2 linked regions of the Homo sapiens genome follow. The protein of the gene in region 2 purifies or fractionates together with the protein of the main gene of each other region. This does not show direct contact. Each region holds a gene or a part of one and is shown on either strand. Other genes may lie near its edges.

Evidence for each region. The genes of interacting proteins can lie anywhere in the genome.
Region 1: the proteins of PSKH1 (region 2) and LTV1 purify together in Homo sapiens (affinity purification with mass spectrometry; one large-scale study listed by BioGRID and IntAct). This does not show direct contact.

The regions. Positions count from the first base shown.
Region 1 is NC_000006.12:143,856,835-143,860,486, reverse strand, and holds part of LTV1 (protein LTV1 homolog), read right to left. Parts: intron 3,185-3,652; coding exon 3,043-3,184; exon of another isoform or gene 2,906-3,042; coding exon of another isoform or gene 2,904-2,905; intron 2,736-2,903; coding exon 2,480-2,735; intron 62-2,479; coding exon 1-61. UniProt on the Homo sapiens protein: Essential for ribosome biogenesis.
Region 2 is NC_000016.10:67,924,215-67,927,327, forward strand, and holds part of PSKH1 (serine/threonine-protein kinase H1), read left to right. Parts: intron 1-3,110; coding exon 3,111-3,113. UniProt on the Homo sapiens protein: Serine/threonine protein kinase that may be involved in the regulation of pre-mRNA processing.

The DNA of each region.
Region 1 (3,652 bases), on a different chromosome or scaffold from region 2:
AACCTTCCAATTCTGCATTATCCAGAGCTCCAATTTCATCATCATCATATTGCTCATAAAACTTGAATATAAACAGAGAAAAGATACCATGAAAAGCAAATGTACTCAGTAAGACTACACACTTAAAAATTTTTTTACATTAACTTTATTCTTACACAATAGTTATTCAGGTACTATCACAATTACCATTAAAATATCAGTAGGGATTTAATGCAACAATAGGATGTGGAAGATATTTCTGCTCAGTACTTTAAGACTTACATTTAGCCTAAAAATAGGCTTCCATTTAACATGTAAATGAAAGGCATTATTCCACTCAGCTTGGAGAACAAAATGCTAGGCAGCACAGATTACGTCAGAACATTTTTGAAGATACTTTTTCTTTTTTTTAAGTATCTCACTGTCTCCCAGCCTGGAGTACAGTGGCGTGATCATAGTTCACTGCAGCCTCAAACTCTCAGGCTCAAGCAATCTTCCCACCTCAGCCTCTCAAGCAGCTGGGACCACAGGCACATGCCACCATACCAGGCCATTTTATTTATTTTTTTAAATAGAAACAGGGTCTGCACTGCCCAAGACAGTCTCAAACTCCTAGGCTCAAGTGATCCATCTGCTTCGGCCTCCCACAGTTCTGAGATTATAGGCACGAGACACTACGCCTAGACTAAAGATATTTTCATATTCCTTAGTTATGCAAACTAAAAGATTGTGCAACTGAAAATTCACCTACTAATGTATATATTTGTTCTTGTTTAGACAATAATTACTATATTATGCAAATGGTGTTGACACTGTTAAGCTTTGACAAAGAGTAAATGGGGGGGATATATCTCCTGAAGAGTGAGATTTGTAGCAACAGTTTGTTTCTCCCTCAAGAGAAGAGGGAAAATAGTATTAGGTGAGAAGGTAGCAAGGTAACAGCCTTTATTTTAGATTCACCTGGATGGCAACTATTCCTTCATTCATTTATCATTTATGGAACACTTTAAACTTCTATTACATGCCAAGACACCATTTTAGGCTTTTGGATGTATCCGTGAGCAAAATACAAAGAACTCTCTGCCCTTGGGGAATTCACATTCTAATCTGAGACAAATCTATATATAACATACATAATAAAGCACAACATTAGAGATGATGTTAGGAGGTGTTATGTGCTACAGAACAAACAACAGGATAGGTGGGATTAAAAACCTGTATAAACAGTCTATAGGTTGGGATTATAAACCCTGGAGCTAATCTGTTACAACAGAACCAAATAGAGTATATGAAAATACAAGCTTTCAAAAGTGTCTTATACTCTACTTCCATTCTATTCCTCAGTGTTAGTTATGTCTGAAAACACCAGATGAGAAACGGAAAGAAATGGAATTTTGATGTGCTCAATCAGGCCAATACTTCAGAAATATAGCATCTTATGGATTACTGTTGGAGAAATTCAGAATCAGGATGTCAGAATTCAAGGGGGAAAATAAGAACGTTTGATCAGCCAACTCCTTTTGACCTACACACGTTCTTTCCAGAATCAAAACTAGGGTGACTGGCCTCATAGAATATGTAAAGGGAAAACGACAATAACTAAGGTGCTTTTATGCTCTGTTTTAATAAAGAGATACGCTGTTTTCAACACTCAAAAGTTTTAGCTTTGGGTCCCAATCTCTCTTTTTAAAAAATAAAAAAAGAAAAATAACAAAAAAAAACAAGGCACACAGCAAGGCGCCTAACATCTACTTAGCTCGCGGGCGGATCAGCTGACTTGGCCAGAGGATGTTCCAGTTTCCAGATCAACCTCAACCCGCTCGGCTTCGTCAAGGTCCTTGAGTGGACTGCTTCTATCTTTAGAGTCACCTTGAAGGAAACTATTCCTTCATTCATTTATCATTTATGGAACACTTTAAACTTCTACTACATGCCAAGACACCATTTTAGGCTTTCAGATGTATCGTGAGCAAAATATAAAAAACTCTCTGCCCTTGGGGGATTCACATTCTAATCTGAGACAAATCCATATATGACATACATAATAAAGAAGCACAACATTAGAGATGGTGAGGGTTTAAGGGCCACTTCTGGGGGTTTTAAGGGCCAAATAGAAACTCAAGTGAGTTGTCCTACCACAGTTAGTGAGAATAAAACTATTACAGCTACTTTTGGTTACCCATTCAGGTTGAATGAGGCATCATTTGAGCCACCTCCTGGTGTAAGCGTGTGATGTAAATTGGAAAAGTCACATCCTCCTAACCAATTACTCTTCTTCTGCACAGTTCTATGCTCCCTTTGCAGTCTTTGTGCTCCTGTACTGCACTGATACCCTTCTGCTTTATGCTGGCTACACGAACCTATAGCTGGATAGTTGTAAACTTCCTATGATTGACTTTGTGGTTGGTGAGCACTTCAACCTGGGCTAAAGCTGACAGGTATTAAAAAAAAAAATTTAACATAAGATAGTACTAAAGCATCCCTTATGTGGGGACCTTACCTTCTCAAACCTCTCATCATGTAGGGTCAGCTGTTCATTTCTCCTCATGACTGAGGAAGTCATCGAATACTCCGTGAAGCGACTCTTTGTTTCCTCACTCCAGAACAAGTGATCTGCTATAGCTCTGTGAGTTTTTCCGGGCACAGACATACAGTCTTCATCTGACAATAGGCCTGCAGAGTCATAGTCATCATTGCTATCTCCCTTCTCATCATCCACATCTTCCCACTCGCTGTCATCTTCATTCTCAGATTTCCTAAAGTAAAGGTCATAAATTACCTACCAAAACAACTTAAAAAGTAACAGAACAAAACCACTTTACACAAGTAAAATTGGAAGGTATTTCAGGAAGGGTTCTTGTCTAGGCAGGAAGAGTGAGGGTGTTTGATCAATCTGGTTTGGTAGGAAAAGCAATGAATCTCACATTTTCTGCTCTAAAATACAGAAGTCTCAGATTAAATGCTCTTGAAGGTCTCTTCCAACTGTAACGTTCTATGGTTACCATCCCACTGAAGCAGTAACACTTAGGTCATCATCTCTGCTTTGAAACAAACCACACATACTGTATATCCATTCCCTCTTCCTCTCCTGTTGCCTTATTGGCCTGAAGAATAAAGTCATCCTCAAGCAGATTATCTGGATCATCAAAGTCAAAATCATCATCAAGAGCTGCAACAATGTCAGGATCAAAATCCAGTCGAGGTCCTAGAAGGAAAACAAAAATTAAGCAGTAATTCCCAAGATAGCAACAATTCATTCACTTAACTCACAATATAAGGACCTATGATAGCAAGAGTCTATTAATATATTGAGGATAAAAGAACGATTAAGAACTAAGTTCAGTCTAGTGAAGAATAAAGAATGAACACTCCAAGACAAAAAAAGGAAACAAAATGCTGCCTCAGCCCCAGTCAGGACCTTATAAATAAAACTCCCATCTTCCTGGGACAGAGCACCTGGGGGAAGGGGCGGCTGTGGGCACAGCTTCAGCAGACTCAAACGTTCCTGCCTGCCGGCTCTGAAGAGAGCAGCGGATCTCCCGGCACAGTGCTCAAGCTCTGCTAAGGGACAGACTGCCTCCTCAAGTGGGTCCCTGACCCCTGTGCCTCCTGCCTAGGAGACACCTCCCATCAGGGGTCAATAGACACCTCATAGAGGAGAGCTCTGGTTGGC
Region 2 (3,113 bases):
ATGGGAAGAGCTGGGACCTGCCAGAGAGGCCAGGCCAGCCCTCAGACAAATGAGTCCATCTGCATTCTGCGCACAGCCACATGCCCACAGTAATTGGTGAGGCGAGAATCTTGGGGAGCAGCGGGGAGAGGGATCAATCTGGCTCGCTTTGGCACTAACAGGCCGGCCGCTCCATGAGCAGCAGGGGTTGATGCCTGCTGGTGTGAGCCTGTGCCACTCTGAAGATGGAGACACTTAAGACCATAGGGCTGGTCTGGGGAGAGGCCCCTCCAAGACTGCACTGGTGACTGGTTTGGAGTTTCAGGTCCACGGTTTCGCTGGGTGTGGATGTGAAGTGGTGAAACCTCCAGTCCATCCATGTTCAGGCTCCTGGCCTCTGTAGGGGAGTTGCCCCTCTTTTGTCTTGGCTGGACCAAGGGGCAGGGGCAGAATCCATTTCCCAGCCCTGTTGGGACACCCTGGGCTGTCAGCCCTGTCTTGGGGCTGTTCCAGCAACAGGCCAGACTGAGCTGCAGCCTGCTTCCTAGTGAGTCCTCCTCTTCCTGGAGACTGTAGAAGGCCAGCAGGCAGCAGAGGTGTCCCCTGACCCACTCTGTTCAGCTGTGTGTGTGCTGTCTCCATCAAGCTTCTTTCTGTCTCTCCGGTGGGTGATGGGGGCTACAGTGAATGTCTGTGGTCTGGACTGGCTGCCCCCAGTAGTGGTTCCTTGTGTTCAGGAGGCAACCATGGAGCTTTCTTTTTTAAAAAAAAATTTATTAATTTTTTTTTTTCTTTGAGGCGGAGTCTTACCATCTTTCCCAGGGTGATCTTGAACTCTTGGGCTCAAGCAGTCCTCCTGCCTCAGACTCCCAGAGTGTTGGGATTATAGGCGGAAGCCACTGCTCCTGGCTTTTGGGGTTTTCTTGAGCTGTGATCCAAAAGCTATTGTGGCAGCTGTCTAGTCCAGTTGCCCTGCATATTGGCCTTAATACCTCAATATGAATATTTTTTTTTTTTTTTTGAGACGGAGTCTCGCTCTGTTGCCAGGCTGGAGTGCAGTGGTGCGATCTTGGCTCACTGCAACCTCCGCCTCTCAGGTTCAAGCAATTCTCCTGCCTCAGCTTCCTGAGTAGCTGGGACTACAGGCACGCCACCACGCCCGACTAATTTTTGTATTTTTAGTAGAGACGGGGTTTCACCATGTTGGCCAGGATGGTCTTGATCTCATGACCTTGTGATCCACCTGCCTCAGCCTCCCAAAGTGCTGGGATTACAGGCATGAGCCACCACGCCTGGCCCTCAATATGAATCTTGAACTACACAAGCCCCCAGGAGACTTACCTGCCTGTCGGGGAGGGCTGTTGCTCTCTGCGCCCACCCACAGCCCTTGGATAGTAAGGCATCTATGGGCCTTCGTTGGCTGCATGCTCCTGGACCCTGACTTTCCTCCTCCTGGGGGCCAGCATCTCCCCAGGAGTCACTGGGTGCTGCTGGCCCACTGATGAGGATGACCCTGTTAGGTGTGTTTGGGAATATGGTTCCCCTGTTGCTCCCACTTCAGCTCAGTAAAACTTGGAATAACCTTCCAAAGAGTGGGTGAAGACAGCAGCTGCAGGTAGCCCCAGGCCTTCCTCAGGACGGTGGAAGCGTGTTCTCCCTGCCTCATCCCTCTGTGGCAGTGGGGAAGGGGGTAGGGAAAGAGTTGGAGGTCAGGCGAGCCAGACTGGGAGTAGCAGTAGTCAGTGAGTGTGTGTGTCTGCTAGATGGCTGTGCACCTGCCCTGAAGGTGGTCTCTCAGATCCTCCTGAACCCCCTGGAGGGCATGTTCAGGGGTTCCTCAAGGTGAAGGGTACCATGGGTGGTGAAGGGTACCATGGGTGGAACAGGCAGACCTCACCTGGCAGGAAGGAAAGTGAGGGGATCGTTAGCATCCCTGTTGAGTCATCTGCAGCAGGCTCAGGAAAGGTCCTAGCTGCCTATCCTTGGGGGAGCCTCAGAGCCCGTGCCAGAAGTGTTCCTAGGAGATGCAGGGACGCAAGGACTCACCTGGCTGAGCCCCAAGGCCTGGAAGCAGCTCCAGGAAAGGGCACCCATCCGGCAGCACCGTGGGTTGTTTACTGTCTGAGCCTGTGCCTACTGAGTGCTTCCTGTATGCGCAGCACCAGGCACGGGCTCATCCAGCTCAGCATGATCTCATGGGAATACTAAACGAACATGAAATTGCAGTCTCACGTTACAGCTGGAATAATTGCTGGAAGCACTGGGGGCTAAGAGGGAGTCTGAGCAAGTGTCCTTTACCCTGAGAACCTGAGGATCCAGTCAGGTGAAGACAGCCGTACAACCTGAGGCCCTGAGACAGACAGCTGCTGGGTTCGGGGCTGAGATGAGGCAGCCCGGGGTGCATGTGGCAGAGTGGGCTTTATGGAGTTCCTCCCAGGGGACAGAATGTACTAAAATGAGGCTGGCGCACAGCACTGCCAGGAGCCCTTTGTGGCTTAGAGAAGTAATGCGGGCCAGAGGGTGCCACTGAGAAGGGTCCTGGTTCCTTCCTGGTCCCGGGATCGCCTGCCCTCAGCCGACTGGGAAATCTAGTTGCCTTGAATTGTTTCCTTTCCTCCCCATGCCGGGAGGCAGAGGCAGGGAGCAGTGGTCTTCTGCCACTGCTTCGGCAGTTGGAGAGAGGTTGGATCTTCTCTGTAAGGACTAGGAAGTTCCCCTTTAAGTAGCCTGATCCTGGTCATCCAGAGATTGGAGCTTCAATCTGACTTAGGATGTGGTGGGAAAGTTTGAATCATTCTCTAACAGTCCCCTGAGTTATGATACTCCTGGGACAAGTTCGGGGGGGTCTTGGCAGAGGCCATCTCCCTGAGCCAGGCTTTGGGTCCAGTGCACCATAGAATTTGCTCCCTGGGAGAGTGCACAGGTCCTTTCCTTCCTTGCCAGACTCCATCACCTGGAGAGCAGCCCTTGTTCAGCCTGAGCCAGCGTTGGGCGGGGAGGCCCCAAGTGCTACATGAGAGGAGGGGCAGCACCTCTCTCTGGAAAGGGGAGGGTTGCTGAGTAGTGGCCTCATCCAGATGGGGTGGGCAGTGTCAGATGCTCTCACTCTAATGCTTGTCCTTGGTCTCTAGCCC